Homo sapiens: one gene and its partner. The protein of the gene in region 1 interacts with the protein of each later gene in a pairwise test. Each region holds a gene or a part of one and is shown on either strand. Other genes may lie near its edges.

Region 1 (7,027 bases):
CCAGGTGCCATGGCTCACGCCTGTAATCCTAGCACTTTGGGAGGCCGAGGCGGGTGGATCACAAGGTCAGGAGATTGAGACCATTCTGGCTAATGTGGTGAAACCCCACATCTACTAAAAATACAAAAAAAAATTAGCCGGGCATGGTGGCGGGCGCCTGTAGTCCCAGCTACTTGGGAGGCTGAGGCAGGAGAATGGCGTGAACCCGGGAGGCAGAGCTTGCAGTGAGCTGAGATCACGCCACTGCACTCCAGCCTGGGTGACAGAGCGAGACTCCATCTGAAAAAAAAAAAAAAAATTAGCTGGATATGGTGGTGCACGCCCATGATCCCAGCTACTTGGAAGGCTGAGGCACAAGAATTGCTTGAACCTGGGAGGCAGAGGCTACAGTGAGCGGAGATCACGCCACTGCACTCCAGCCTGGGCGACAGAGCAAGACTCTGTCTCCAAAAAAAAGAAAGAAAGAAAAGAAAAAAAAAACCAAGGTCCAGAGCAATTCACTAACTTACCCAAAGCAGGGCCGCTAGAGATGGTTGTGCACATTACTCCCTACATAGGGATGTCTGGCCAAGGATCCACACTCCACTGGCCGTGCTGTGTACCCGCCCAGCAGCATCACCCAACCCAGAGAGTGCGCCTTTTCCACTCTACATGAAGGTGCTCTGTGGACTTACTGTAAACAGCCTCCTCAGTAGTCAGTCAGTAGTAGAGACAGAATCCAAACCCAGGTCTGATTCCAAAGCCTCTGTTTTGTTTCTGTTTTCTGTTTGTTTTTTTTTGAGACAGGGTCTTGCTCTGTCACTCAGGATGGAATGCAGTAGTGTTGTGATCATAGCTTACTGCAGCCTCGAACTCCTGGGCTCAAATGATCCAAAGCATTGGGATTACAGGCATGAGCCACCATACCCAGCCAGCCAAAGCCTCTGTTTTTGCCCATATCACACTCATTCTCCTCCAGAAGACAAGGGCCATATCTGGTTAATCTCCTGCTGTTCCACTCAATGCCTGGCTCATCATAGGTGGGCAGTAAATGCTTATCAGTGAGTAACTGGAGAACAACATGGCCCTTCCTTATAGGCCAAAAAGCAAATGGATTTCCACCTGACAAATCTTCGGGATCCAAGAAGCAGAAACAATATCAGCGGATTCGGAAGGAGAAGCCTCAACAACACAACTTCACCCACCGCCTCCTGGCTGCAGCTCTGAAGGTACGTGGGGTACCTGGCACAGCGTGCACCCTGAGACTCAGCCCCACAGGCTTTTCCTCTGGAGTATTCCATGCATGTTACAGGCTCTCCTGCCTCTGATCAGAATCAGCGGGGGTGCTTAATTCTGTCCCCTCTCATCGCAGCCCAATCTCAGCTTGCTGTTAATCCAGGCCACAGGGCCCCATCTCCCCGGCTCCAGGTTTGGCTTCCCCATCTCCCCCAGGAGCTCCTATTGACACTTCCTGCCACCCTTCCCCTAGAGCCACAGCGGGAACATATCTTGCATGGACTTTAGCAGCAATGGCAAATACCTGGCTACCTGTGCAGATGATCGCACCATCCGCATCTGGAGCACCAAGGACTTCCTGCAGCGAGAGCACCGCAGCATGAGAGCCAACGTGGAGCTGGACCACGCCACCCTGGTGCGCTTCAGCCCTGACTGCAGGTGGGACAAGACGGAGCCTCAGGTTTGCCTGCAGAGGCCTAGTCCCAGGCTTTGGCCTTCCCATATCTGCTTTGAGGTAGTGAGGAGGGACCTGGACCCAGGGCCTCCCTTGGGGTGCCAGAAAGAGCATCCACATAGTTTGCGCGCTGCCTGGGGCTCCCTGGAGATCTGGGCTGCTATACAGCAAGGAAACAGGGGGAGGTCTCTTCCTACCTGGAAATACCTTGGCCTGGCTTCCAGATGAGCCTTAGTTTCTAAACCCTAGAGAGAAACTAAAGGAGCCAAAGCTATCAGAATCTTACCTTTTGAGGAGTTTTATGAGATTTGGAACCAGGGGCTTAAGTTTTAAGGCTAGACTGTGGGGCATGAGGAGAGATCTTGACTTCCCCGAGAACCCAGCACAGGACCTGGAACACAGAGCCTCTTTGTCCAGTGAGAGCGTGACTTGTCTGCTGCCTGTCTCTAGAGCCTTCATCGTCTGGCTGGCCAACGGGGACACCCTCCGTGTCTTCAAGATGACCAAGCGGGAGGATGGGGGCTACACCTTCACAGCCACCCCAGAGGACTTCCCTAAAAAGCACAAGGCGCCTGTCATCGACATTGGCATTGCTAACACAGGTAAGAGGCATTCAGAGGGTGGCGCCTGCCCAAAGCATGAAGGAAAGATCCAGTTCTATTTCCTCAATGAGTTAATGCTGCCTGAAAGTTCTGCTCAACCTGAGAGGAACAAGGGGTCCCTGGCTCTGAACAGCCTGGCTCTGTGCTCCCCTGGAGTCCCTGGGCCACACCAGGTCCCTAGGGAAGGTGGGGAAGGGCCACAGTCTTCAGCAGAGTCCTTATCTGTAGTGACCCTTGGCCTGGGAGGAGACATGTATACTTCGGGCAGCAGAGGCCTTGTAAGTGTCTTTGGAGAGTGACAGTTGGTCAGGTCACTGCCCGTGACCCACATCACTCCCTTCCCGCTCAGGGAAGTTTATCATGACTGCCTCCAGTGACACCACTGTCCTCATCTGGAGCCTGAAGGGTCAAGTGCTGTCTACCATCAACACCAACCAGATGAACAACACACACGCTGCTGTATCTCCCTGTGGCAGGTGGGCAAGGAGGGGTATTGGCGTCTGGGACCACGAGAGGCTGGGGCTGGGGAGCAGGCACAGAACAGAGAGCCAGCTTCATCGCGTGGGAAGAGCATACGGGGTGGGGTCAGGAACCCGAGCTTCAAGTCTCAGCTCTCCCCACTTGCAGTAGTGGGATTTCATGCAGGTCGCCCCATGTCCTTAGTCGCTATTTCTTCATCTTCAGTGTTTTTGTTTTTTAGAAAATTAGTCTCACTCTGTCACCCAGGCTGGAGCACAGTGGTGCGATCATAGCTCACTGCAGCCTCAAACTCCTGGGTTGTAGCTATTCTCCCAGCTCAGCCTCCTGAGTAGTCAGGACTATAGGCATGTGCCACTGTACTCAGCTAATTTTTGTTTTTTGTTTGTTTGTTTGTTGAGACGGTTTCACCCTCGCCCAGGCAGGAGTGCAGTGGCGCAATCACAGCTCACTGTAGCCTTGACTTCCCAGGCTCAGACCATCCTCCCACCTTAGCCTCCCGAGTAGCTGGGACTACAGGCGTGCACTACCACACCTGGCTAATTTTTGTATTTTTTGTTGAGATGGGGTCTTACTATGTTGCCCAGGCTGGTCCTGAACTCCTGGCCTCAAGTGATCCTCTTGCCTCGACCTCCCAAAGTGGTAGAATTACAGGCGTGAGCCACTGTGCCAAGCCACCTTTGGGCGGGGATGTTACATATCTTAGAACAAGGCTAGAAGATAAACTGAGGTCACATACATAAAAGAACTTTTTTGTTGTGGTTGTTTGTTTGTTTTTTGAGATGGAGTTTCGCTCTTGTTGCTTAGGTTGGAGTGCAATGGCAGGATCTTGGCTCACCACAACCTCCGTCTCCCGGGTTCAAGCGATTCTCCTGCCTCAGCCTCCCCCAAGTAGCTGGGATTACAGGCATGCACCACCATGCCCAGCTAATTTTTTATTTTTAGTAGAGGTGAGGTTTCTCCATGTTGGTCAGGCTGGTCTCAAACTGTCGGACCTTAGGTGAGCTGCCCGCCTGGGCCTCCCAAAGTGCTGGGATTACAGGTATGAGCCACCACACCCGGCCTTTTTTTTTTTTTTTTTCTGAGACAGTCTCACTCTGTTGCCCAGGCTGGAGTGCAGTGGTGCAATCTCAATCTCAGCTCACTGCAACCTCCACCTACCAGGTTCAAGTGATTCTCCCACCTCAGCCTTCCCAGTAGGTGGGACTACAGGCATGCGCCACCACGCCTGGCTAATTTTGTATTTTTAGTAGAGATGAGGTTTCACCATGTTGGCCAGGCTGGTCTCGAACTCCTGACCTCAGGTGATCCACCCACCTCGGCCTCCCAAAGTGCTGGGATGACAGGCGTGAGCCACCGCGCCCGGCCAAAATAACTCTTTAAAGGTTTATATTATCCAGATATGAGGATTATCAACTTTCTCAGGAAAGAGATTGAGGGGTTTTACAGGAACAACATGCTCCGAAAATGAAGTTTTAAAGGCTTCTGGGTTGTATGGCAGATTTGTAGCCTCGTGTGGCTTCACCCCAGATGTGAAGGTTTGGGAAGTCTGCTTTGGAAAGAAGGGGGAGTTCCAGGAGGTGGTGCGAGCCTTCGAACTAAAGGGCCACTCCGCGGCTGTGCACTCGTTTGCTTTCTCCAACGACTCACGGAGGTGAGTGAATCCGCTCTGATGTCTGACCAGTGGCTCTTGGCCCCTCTTGACAACCAGGGTCCTTCTGTCTGTTTGTGCCATGGCTCTGAAGAGGGTGGGGTGCCTGGCCCTCGGCAGGAAGCTGACTTAGCTTCCTAGCTGGAGCTGCTCAAGTTGGGCCAGTGCTTACCCTGCCAGGGTGTGTTGGGGCTTGAGCTGTGATTTTCTGTGTTGCAGGATGGCTTCTGTCTCCAAGGATGGTACATGGAAACTGTGGGACACAGATGTGGAATACAAGAAGAAGCAGGACCCCTACTTGCTGAAGACAGGCCGCTTTGAAGAGGCGGCGGGTGCCGCGCCGTGCCGCCTGGCCCTCTCCCCCAACGCCCAGGTCTTGGCCTTGGCCAGTGGCAGTAGTATTCATCTCTACAATACCCGGCGGGGCGAGAAGGAGGAGTGCTTTGAGCGGGTCCATGGCGAGTGTATCGCCAACTTGTCCTTTGACATCACTGGCCGCTTTCTGGCCTCCTGTGGGGACCGGGCGGTGCGGCTGTTTCACAACACTCCTGGCCACCGAGCCATGGTGGAGGAGATGCAGGGCCACCTGAAGCGGGCCTCCAACGAGAGCACCCGCCAGAGGCTGCAGCAGCAGCTGACCCAGGCCCAAGAGACCCTGAAGAGCCTGGGTGCCCTGAAGAAGTGACTCTGGGAGGGCCCGGCGCAGAGGATTGAGGAGGAGGGATCTGGCCTCCTCATGGCACTGCTGCCATCTTTCCTCCCAGGTGGAAGCCTTTCAGAAGGAGTCTCCTGGTTTTCTTACTGGTGGCCCTGCTTCTTCCCATTGAAACTACTCTTGTCTACTTAGGTCTCTCTCTTCTTGCTGGCTGTGACTCCTCCCTGACTAGTGGCCAAGGTGCTTTTCTTCCTCCCAGGCCCAGTGGGTGGAATCTGTCCCCACCTGGCACTGAGGAGAATGGTAGAGAGGAGAGGAGAGAGAGAGAGAATGTGATTTTTGGCCTTGTGGCAGCACATCCTCACACCCAAAGAAGTTTGTAAATGTTCCAGAACAACCTAGAGAACACCTGAGTACTAAGCAGCAGTTTTGCAAGGATGGGAGACTGGGATAGCTTCCCATCACAGAACTGTGTTCCATCAAAAAGACACTAAGGGATTTCCTTCTGGGCCTCAGTTCTATTTGTAAGATGGAGAATAATCCTCTCTGTGAACTCCTTGCAAAGATGATATGAGGCTAAGAGAATATCAAGTCCCCAGGTCTGGAAGAAAAGTAGAAAAGAGTAGTACTATTGTCCAATGTCATGAAAGTGGTAAAAGTGGGAACCAGTGTGCTTTGAAACCAAATTAGAAACACATTCCTTGGGAAGGCAAAGTTTTCTGGGACTTGATCATACATTTTATATGGTTGGGACTTCTCTCTTCGGGAGATGATATCTTGTTTAAGGAGACCTCTTTTCAGTTCATCAAGTTCATCAGATATTTGAGTGCCCACTCTGTGCCCAAATAAATATGAGCTGGGGATTAAATACGAATAAGACATGGTTTCTGCCATCAAAGATGGCTGGTGGGAGAGAGAGATACACCCTTATTAAGTGCTTTGTGTTAGTTTATTCATAGCTATTGTTATATATGTCAAGGCAAGAGAGGACCAGAGCAGGACAGAGGCAATGGGTATTGAAGTTGAAGGGGTACATTTGATAAGAGAGTCGGTATTGAGAAGTTTAAATTTGTGAATTTGAAGGCTGCGTGGGTGTGGCAGGTAAGGGAAATGAGGTATCTGGGAAGGCTTGAGTGTAGGCAAATTTATTCATCCCAAGTCAAACTCTTGATCTCTCTCACGAAAACTATGACCCCCCCTGGTTGCCCCTGACCTCTCAATGTTGGAACAAGCCACAACCGTGGAGTTATCCTTGATGACTCCCCATTCATTATCCCTTCTGTCCCACCACCACAGCTGTCATCTGTTCACCAGAACGTTCTTTTGGTTACACTCCATGTGACATCCTGAGGCTGTTGCTTCTCTCCAGCTTTTCTGTTACCATCCTGGTCCTGGCTACTGTCACCTAGTGGGCCACTATAATATGGCTTCCTAATGGATCTTCCTGCTTCCTCTGTTGCCTCATTACTTTTCTATATAGCAGAATGATCTTTTGAAAATGTGAACCAGATCACATTATTCCCTAGTTAAAACCCCCCAAGGCTTCCCATCACACTTGGAATAAAATCCAAAAGAATTTTTCTAAACCAAAAATAGTAAAAACAATTTTTTTTTTCTGACAATCTCTTGTCACCCAGGCTGGAGTACAATGGCGCAATCTCGGCTCACTGCAACCGCCGCCTCCTAGGTTCAAGCGATTCTCCTGCCTCAGCCTCCAGAGTAGCTGGGATTACAGGCATGTGCCACCACGCCTGGCTAATTTTTGTATTTTTAGTAGAGACAGGGTTTCACGATGTTGGCCAGGCTGCTCTCGAACTCCTGACCTCAAATGATCCACCACCCCCCTTGGCCTCCCCAAGTGCTGGGATTACAGGTGTGAGCCATCGTGCCTAGCTAAAAACACTTAATCCAAAATTCTTACCATGGCCTGCAAGGTCCTGTGTAACCTGGCTTCGTCCCCCCTCTAAATGCTA
Region 2 (7,027 bases), on another chromosome or scaffold:
AGACATGTCAACTCCCTCTTCGTGCCTGCAGTCGTATCTTGAATCCAGCAAGTTTCGACTGCATTGTGGACTGTGGCAGCACAGGATGACCAAGCCTGAGGCTGTGCTGCAGCCGGAGGCTTTGTCTCTCAGCTACCGTGTGGCCTCTCCAGCCTCTACAATGCAGCTTCTAAGAGCTTCAGTGACTCTTTAATTTATTGTCTGAAAAGCTGTTACAAACAACATTGGATTTTAAAGAGCTCATCACACATATTTTTGAAATGTTCCTTTTAAGTGTAAACTATTCCATGTAAATTTAAAAATTCCTTTTACCTTTTTTTTTTTTTTTTTTCCAATTTTGAGACAGGGTCTCACTCTGTCACCCAGGCTGGGGGGCAGTGGCAAGCTCTCTGCTCACTGCAGCTTCAACTTCCAAGGCTCAGGTAATCCTCCTACCTCAACCTCCCCAAGCAGCTAGGACTACAGGTGTGCAGCACCATGCCTGGTTGATTTTTGTATTTTTTGTAGAGACAGGGTTTCAGTTTCTTGCCCAGGCTGCTCTCGAATTCCTGGCTCAAGTGATCCACCCACCTTGGCCTCCAAAGTGCTGGGATTACAGGTGTGATCCTGAACTTAACTTACCGTATTCTCATGTAGGCACAAGGAAAACTTCAGGATTTCAAAATAATGATTCAGTGGATGATAAAATTACAGAGGCTATAGCAGGTATAAATGAAGAGATAGTAAGAGCTCAGTAGAAATATTGAATATTAATCTCAAAAAATGCATACATTGGCTGGCGCGGTGGCTCACACCTGAAATCCCAGCACTTTGAGAAGCCGAGGTGGGCAGATCACTCGAGGTCAGGAGTTCGAAACCAGACTGGCCAACATGGTGAAACCCCTTCTCTACTAAAAATACAAAAATTAGCTGGACGTGGTGGCATGTGCCTGTAATCCCAGCTACTCAGGAGGCTGAGACAGGAGAATCACTTTAACCCAGGAGGCGGAGGTTGTGTGAGCAGAGATCACGCCACTGCACTCCAGCCTGGGCGACAGAGCAAGACTCTCTCTCATTTAAAAAACAAAACATATTGATACCAAAAACCTATGACCTTAGAAAAGACCAAAAGCACGCAGATTCCATTCTACAGCATGTGACCACTGAAAAACTCACCATACACGCACAGAGAATGACAGCAAAAAGGCAAATAACATCTTAGTATTACAAAAAAAACTGCCCTGACCTCGGGGATTTGGTGGCCACACACTGAGAATGCAAACCACTACTGTAAAGAGCAGGTGCTGGACAGACCTCCCAGCAGCCAGACAGATCCTGCAAGATCTCAGGAGTCATCAGCTTCCCAAAAGGACCTAAAATCTGAAGGAAGTGGGAAGGGGAAAGAGAAACCTGAAGACAAAGGAAGCAGGCAGGAGAATGTGTATCCTGACTTGCCGCCATCACCAGGCTAAGGTACCCAGACGGACCCCAAGGCCCTCTAAGAACAGCCCCAGGCAGAGGGGCCTCTTCTGGGAGTCACCAAAGGAGCTGAAACACACACACACCTGCAGACAGCACCTCTCAGCTGGGATCTGCAGAGAGAGCGCTCCTGGCCAAGTACTTGGAGTGGCCACAGCAGCCCTTCGTGGGGACCCCAGCACACACGAGCCCGGGAAGCTCCTTGCATAGCCAGGCACACGCCTCCTTGCTGCTTGGAGCTGCGCAGCACAGCACGGCTCAGATTGCTCCCATCAAGAGCCCTCCTCTCCTGCTCAGTACACATTAACATCTCTAGCAATCACACTAGGTGTGATTCAGAGCCCCTAGCTGTAGACTGTTGCTGCCTGCCAGCATCTCTGCACAGGTTTTCTAGAGACAGGTGTGGCGAACCGCATAGAGCCGTGGTCTTCCCCACCTGCCGGGGCGGCCCAGAGCTCAGCTCCTTCCTCTCATTCCTCCCCACAAGTCTCTCAAGTCACATGTGTCCTGTCCCTGCCTAGCCAGGCCCTCAACTCCCCCTCGTCTTGTGCTTCCACTCCAGCATGCCTTCCTGCAAGGCCCTCTCCCCACCCCCTTGGGCTCCTCTCTGCCCACACAAAAGGGAAAAGCAGGTAAAAATATTAGGGGGGAAGCCCGTCTTACCAGATTAAAATGGAAAACATAAAATATAAATAGGGACAGGATGGACTTGGTAAGAATTTGCAGCTTCCATACAAAAACACAGTATCGAGACTGGAGAGAAACTGAAGAATGTTTGCAAAACATACAACAAGGAATAGTCTCCATACACGTGGCTTTTAAAAATCCATGTTAAAAAGAGGCACCAGCCTGGCCAACACAGGGAAAGCCTGTCTCTATCAAAAAATACAAAAATTAACCAGGTGTGGTGGCAGGTGCCTGTAATTCCGGCTACTTGAGAGGTTGAGGCAGGAGAATTGCTTGAACCCAGGAGGCAGAGGTTGCAGTGAGCTGAGATCGCGCCACTGCATTCCAGCCTGGGTGACAGAGCAACACTCTGTCTCAAAAAAAAAGATGCAAAATATACAAGAAAGAATAGTCAAAGGACACAAAGTACCTCAAAAAAGAAACACAAATGGTCATGAACACAGGAGACATCTGCCTCAATAGGAATAAAACAGAAATTCACAAGTTTGTTTTTGGAGCATCAAAACACTCTCAGGCAGGCAAGAGCATTGGGAAAGGCAGATTCCTGGCGCCCCCGCGACAGATCCCCAGCCCTGAAAACACGCACGCCCTCCATCACACACTGCCCCTGGCACTCACCTTAGAAGACATAAATGGACAAGTGGGGAAAGCTATGTGGAAAAGAGGGGCTACAACAGCAAACCTCATAAACTCCCAAGTGGCCAGGTCCAGGCCGCGTCTGTCCATACCACAGTGACTCCATGGCCACAACCAGCAGGTCCAAATGCCCGGCAGAGGAGGGGAGCGCCCGGCGGTCACAACCCACTCAGCCCCTGGGCCGGCTGCCTCCTAAGCACCTGTTTCCAACTGTGCACTTACGATGTGCTCCTTGGCCAAGCGTCCAAGGCTGCTGAGGGAGGCAGTGACAAGGCAAAGGCACCCACCATAAGCCCCCACGTGTTCACGCTGCAATTCTGCAAAAAGCATTGCTTATGTCCATAAGTTCTTACCAAGGGTTTCCGCCAGCCTGCTTCTCCAACAACAACCTCTTCTCATCTTCGGAAAACTGTAAGTCCAGTTCAAAGGAGTTCGAGTCCAGATCGTGAATGTACTGCTCTATGTTGCTGCCTGACCTCTGGGGCAGGCCCGTGTCGGAGGCTGACAGGGAGTGTGAGGAGGAGGACGAAGACACCTGCATGCAGCCAAACTGGCTCAGGAGATTGTCATACTGCAGAGAAGAAGGGAAAGTGAGAACCGCACCTTCACTTGCCTCTAAGGTCCTAAAACCCCAGCCCCTCCCGCACTGCCGCTGTCAGGCCTTGGGAGCTCGCACACAGCAAGGCGCAAGGCGACAGGGTGGGCAGCCCTGATTCTCCTCCATGGGACACCTGGCCACAGAACCGAGGCCTCACTGGATCCTGCCTGGTCGGGCTCCTCTTCCCATGGGAATCAGGGCCAGAGAGGGGCGAAGCCTCAGATTTCCTCTCCAGGAAGAGGGGACCTGGGCCCTTACCCTGCGGGCCCCGTGAATGCCAGTGCTGCCCCCCGGAGGTGGGGGCTGGGATGCCTGCTGGGAAGAGAAGGGGCCCAAGGAGGCCTGGTGGCAGATCCATCACACAGGCTGGCAGACAGGGCCTCCGTGCAAGACCTTGTTGGGCCCCAGGTGTCTTAGGAGTCTGAGTCTGTGGTAGATGCTAAATATTTTGATTTGACTAAACACATTCAATTGTTTAAAAGACATTCCTCTTAATCCCAGCAAAGATAAACTAAACTTACTGTAGATAACGCTGCCTGTTACTCTAGGAAAAAGACAAGCTAGTGTCGACAACGGAAACTCACTCATAAACGTGCCAAGCGGACACAGCCTGTGCACTAACACGCTCCTGGCACTGCCAAGGCCAGAGAGTCCCTGGGCAAGGGAAGCCACCTCCCCGGCTGCAGGCCCCACATCTGAGCTCTGTGGAGGCCAAGGACAAGGGGAAAGAAAAGGTGCCACGAGCAATGGCTAGGATAAGAGTGCGGCATGCCCTTCCACGTCCTCCGTGCCTCCAGACGCAGGCCCTGGCTGCTGCCCCACGCAACCATCCACACATGCAGCGTCCCCCATGTGTTCACACTCCTACAGCTGCACCACAGCCCCGCCTCACAGCCCTAAAGCCTCGCACCCAGCTGGGCTGGAGCAAGGTGCTCGCCAACGGGCATGGTGGAAACGCCCGACGCTGCCGGCCCCTCCACGCCGGCCCCTCCACGCCGACCCCTCCACGGGGTGTGGGCCTGCCCAGCCTGCTTGTCTCCAACACTGCCCAATGGTCACACTGCCCCGGCACTTACAGGACCTCAGGAGAGCAGGAGCCAACGAAGCACCTGCTCTCCTGCCTTGGCCCAAGGGCAGGTACCATGGCCAACCTCCCTGGCTGAAGGGGACGCCCAGTGCCCATTCCCCATGAAGGAGGGGGTGCGGCCCTGCAGGGAGGGAGGAGGTACAGCCCTGAAGTCTCCTTCCATGCTTGACACCGTTTGCCAAGACTCACTCACTGTCCCCGTGTGAGGTCTGGCCTGGGAGCTCCCTGCCTGGACCCACTCCAAGGCTTTCAAACCACACAGCTGTGCAGAGCTAAGGATGGGCCATCTAACAGGCGGCTGCCAACAAATGGAGCCTGGCTTCACAGACGGCAACAGAAGCCACGTATCAAGCAGCCCCAGCTCTCAGTAGGCCCAGGCACAGGGGCCTGCACAGGTATGCGGCAAGTGCAAGCACACACACCCCCACACTCAGAGAAGCTCCCCAGGCATTGAGACTGGAGACAACTGAAGCCTGTGCTGCTCCTTCAGAGCCCAGCTACCTCCCTGGGAGCAATGGAGCACAGAGCCCACGGGAGAACGGCCACCAGCCAGTCGCGAGCAAAACCTCTGCAGCAACAGCAGGCCCAGCAGGGAGAGCACTGCAGCCCCGTGGCACCTGCCAGCCGTAACCAAACACCACGCAGGAGCAGCTGAGTGGCACACAGGGTGGGGGCAAGGGCCTCGAGGCTCCCAGGCCTCTGCATACATGAAAGCTGCAGGTGGCCACATCAAGCGGCACAGACTCCGCTCCCCAAGCCTGGCTCCCTTAGAGTTTGGGCTCAAAGGATGTCGGGAGGATGAGGGGCGTTACACAGCAGGTAGGGGCGTTGGGAAACTTTGACACTAGCAGAAATTTAGCTGTGGATGACTTTTAGATAAAATCTAGAATTCCCAGCTGGGTGCAGTAACTCATGCCTAAAACCCCAGCAGTTTGGGAGGCCGAGGCGGGTAGATCACTTGAGGTCAGGAGTTCCACACCAGCCTGGCCAACACGGCGAAACCCTGTCTCTACTAAAAATACAAAAATTAGCCGGGCATGGTGGTGCACACCTGCAGTTCCCGCTAGTCGGGAGGGCGAGACAGGAGAATCGCTTGAACCCACAGCGGCAGAGGTTGCAGTGAGCCGAGATCGCGCCACTACACTCCAGCCTGAGTGACACACCAAGACCCTGTCTCAAAACAAACAAAATCTGGACTTCCTCAGTCATGGAAAGTGGAACTCCGTACACGGTGCCAGTTAGAATAAGCCATGGCGACAGAAGTCAAACCAGAAAAATGGATCTCATGATAACAGCACTTAAGTACGAGGGGGTCACGGGGGAGGTGGCAAGAGGAACTCAGAGGAAACAAGGCTGAAGTGGGCGACATGCCTGCCTCTCACAACACCCTCGGTCCCTTGGGCACATGGTCCACGCTCTCTACGAGAAGCTTAAAGAGCCAAGCGTGCTGAAGACCCCATGGCTGTGGTCAAGCTGGGAGACCAGCAGCCTCAGAGCCTACTCAGCACTGAAGAAGGTACCAGTGTCCCCACCAACGCCACGTCCCAAAAGTTCAAGCACACAACACTCGGGGGTTTCTGTGGAAAGACAGGCAGTGTTCTGGAGCATCTTGGCCGCACAGTTGTACAAGCACCAAGCCAAGCGCAGATGCGACAGGCCGGGCAGGAGGCCCCGTACGTGGGACCCCGGGGCCAGTGCCGGGGGTGCTCGGCGTCCGGTTCTAGCGGCACCCTGTGGGTGGAAACTCACTAGCCTGTCCACGGCCACGGAAATGAGGAGAAAATGACCCACCCAGCACCTCACCCGCCACTGCCTCACGGCAGCAAAGACTACAACCACCAGCAGGCCTGCCGCAGTGGCACAGACACCCTCCCCTTTCGGCTACAAATCACACGTGGGTCTGGCGCACGGGCATGAAGCCCAGTGCACGGAGGACCCAGTGCCACCTGCCTCGCCCGCCATCCCGGCCAGCTTACATTGCCATAGCAGTCCTCGTCGTCTTCCGACATAGCCGGCAGGTAAGCGGTGAGCTTCGGAGGCGTCTGCTGGTGCAGGTTCTCCCACGTGACGGACTCGAAGAACGGGTGTGCTTTAAGAGGTCCGTATCCTTCCATTTCCTCACAGCCTAACCGCTTTGTGGCATCTAAAACCTTAAGTAACAATCAAGACAAGTCACTGCCAGGGTGAAAACGTGATTCTGACCAAAGAAACCCAAACCTGGTAGCCGGGCACGGTGGCTCATGCCTGTCATCCCAGCACTTTGGGAGGCTGAGGCGGGCAGATCACCTGAGGTCAGGAGTTCGAAACCATCCCGGCCAACATGGTGACAACCCGTCTCTACTAAAAATATAAAAATCAGCTGCGCGTGGTGGTGCACGCCTATAATCCCAGCTACTCGGGAGGCTGAGGGAGGAGAATCGCTTGAACCCGGGAGGCAGAATTTGCGGTGAGCCACGATCGCACCATGGCACTCCAGCCTGTGCGACGAGAGCAAAACTCCATCTCCAAAAAAAAAAAAAAATATATATTTATCTCATCTCATCATAAGTCCCTTTCCATTT

The links. Proteins that work in one complex are often made in the same cells at the same time.
Region 2: the proteins of TBL2 (region 1) and PDPK1 interact in binary tests that used the Homo sapiens proteins (3 or more experiments, as listed by UniProt).

Annotation. Positions count from the first base shown.
Region 1 is NC_000007.14:73,568,564-73,575,590, reverse strand, and holds part of TBL2 (transducin beta-like protein 2), read left to right. Parts: intron 1-1,077; coding exon 1,078-1,208; intron 1,209-1,468; coding exon 1,469-1,653; intron 1,654-2,119; coding exon 2,120-2,271; intron 2,272-2,620; coding exon 2,621-2,747; intron 2,748-3,555; coding exon of another isoform or gene 3,556-3,643; exon of another isoform or gene 3,644-3,836; intron 3,837-4,249; coding exon 4,250-4,402; intron 4,403-4,618; coding exon 4,619-5,084; 3' UTR 5,085-7,027.
Region 2 is NC_000016.10:2,583,001-2,590,027, reverse strand, and holds part of PDPK1 (3-phosphoinositide-dependent protein kinase 1), read right to left. Parts: intron 6,617-7,027; coding exon 6,443-6,616; intron 3,353-6,442; coding exon 3,135-3,352; intron 1-3,134. UniProt on the Homo sapiens protein: Serine/threonine kinase which acts as a master kinase, phosphorylating and activating a subgroup of the AGC family of protein kinases.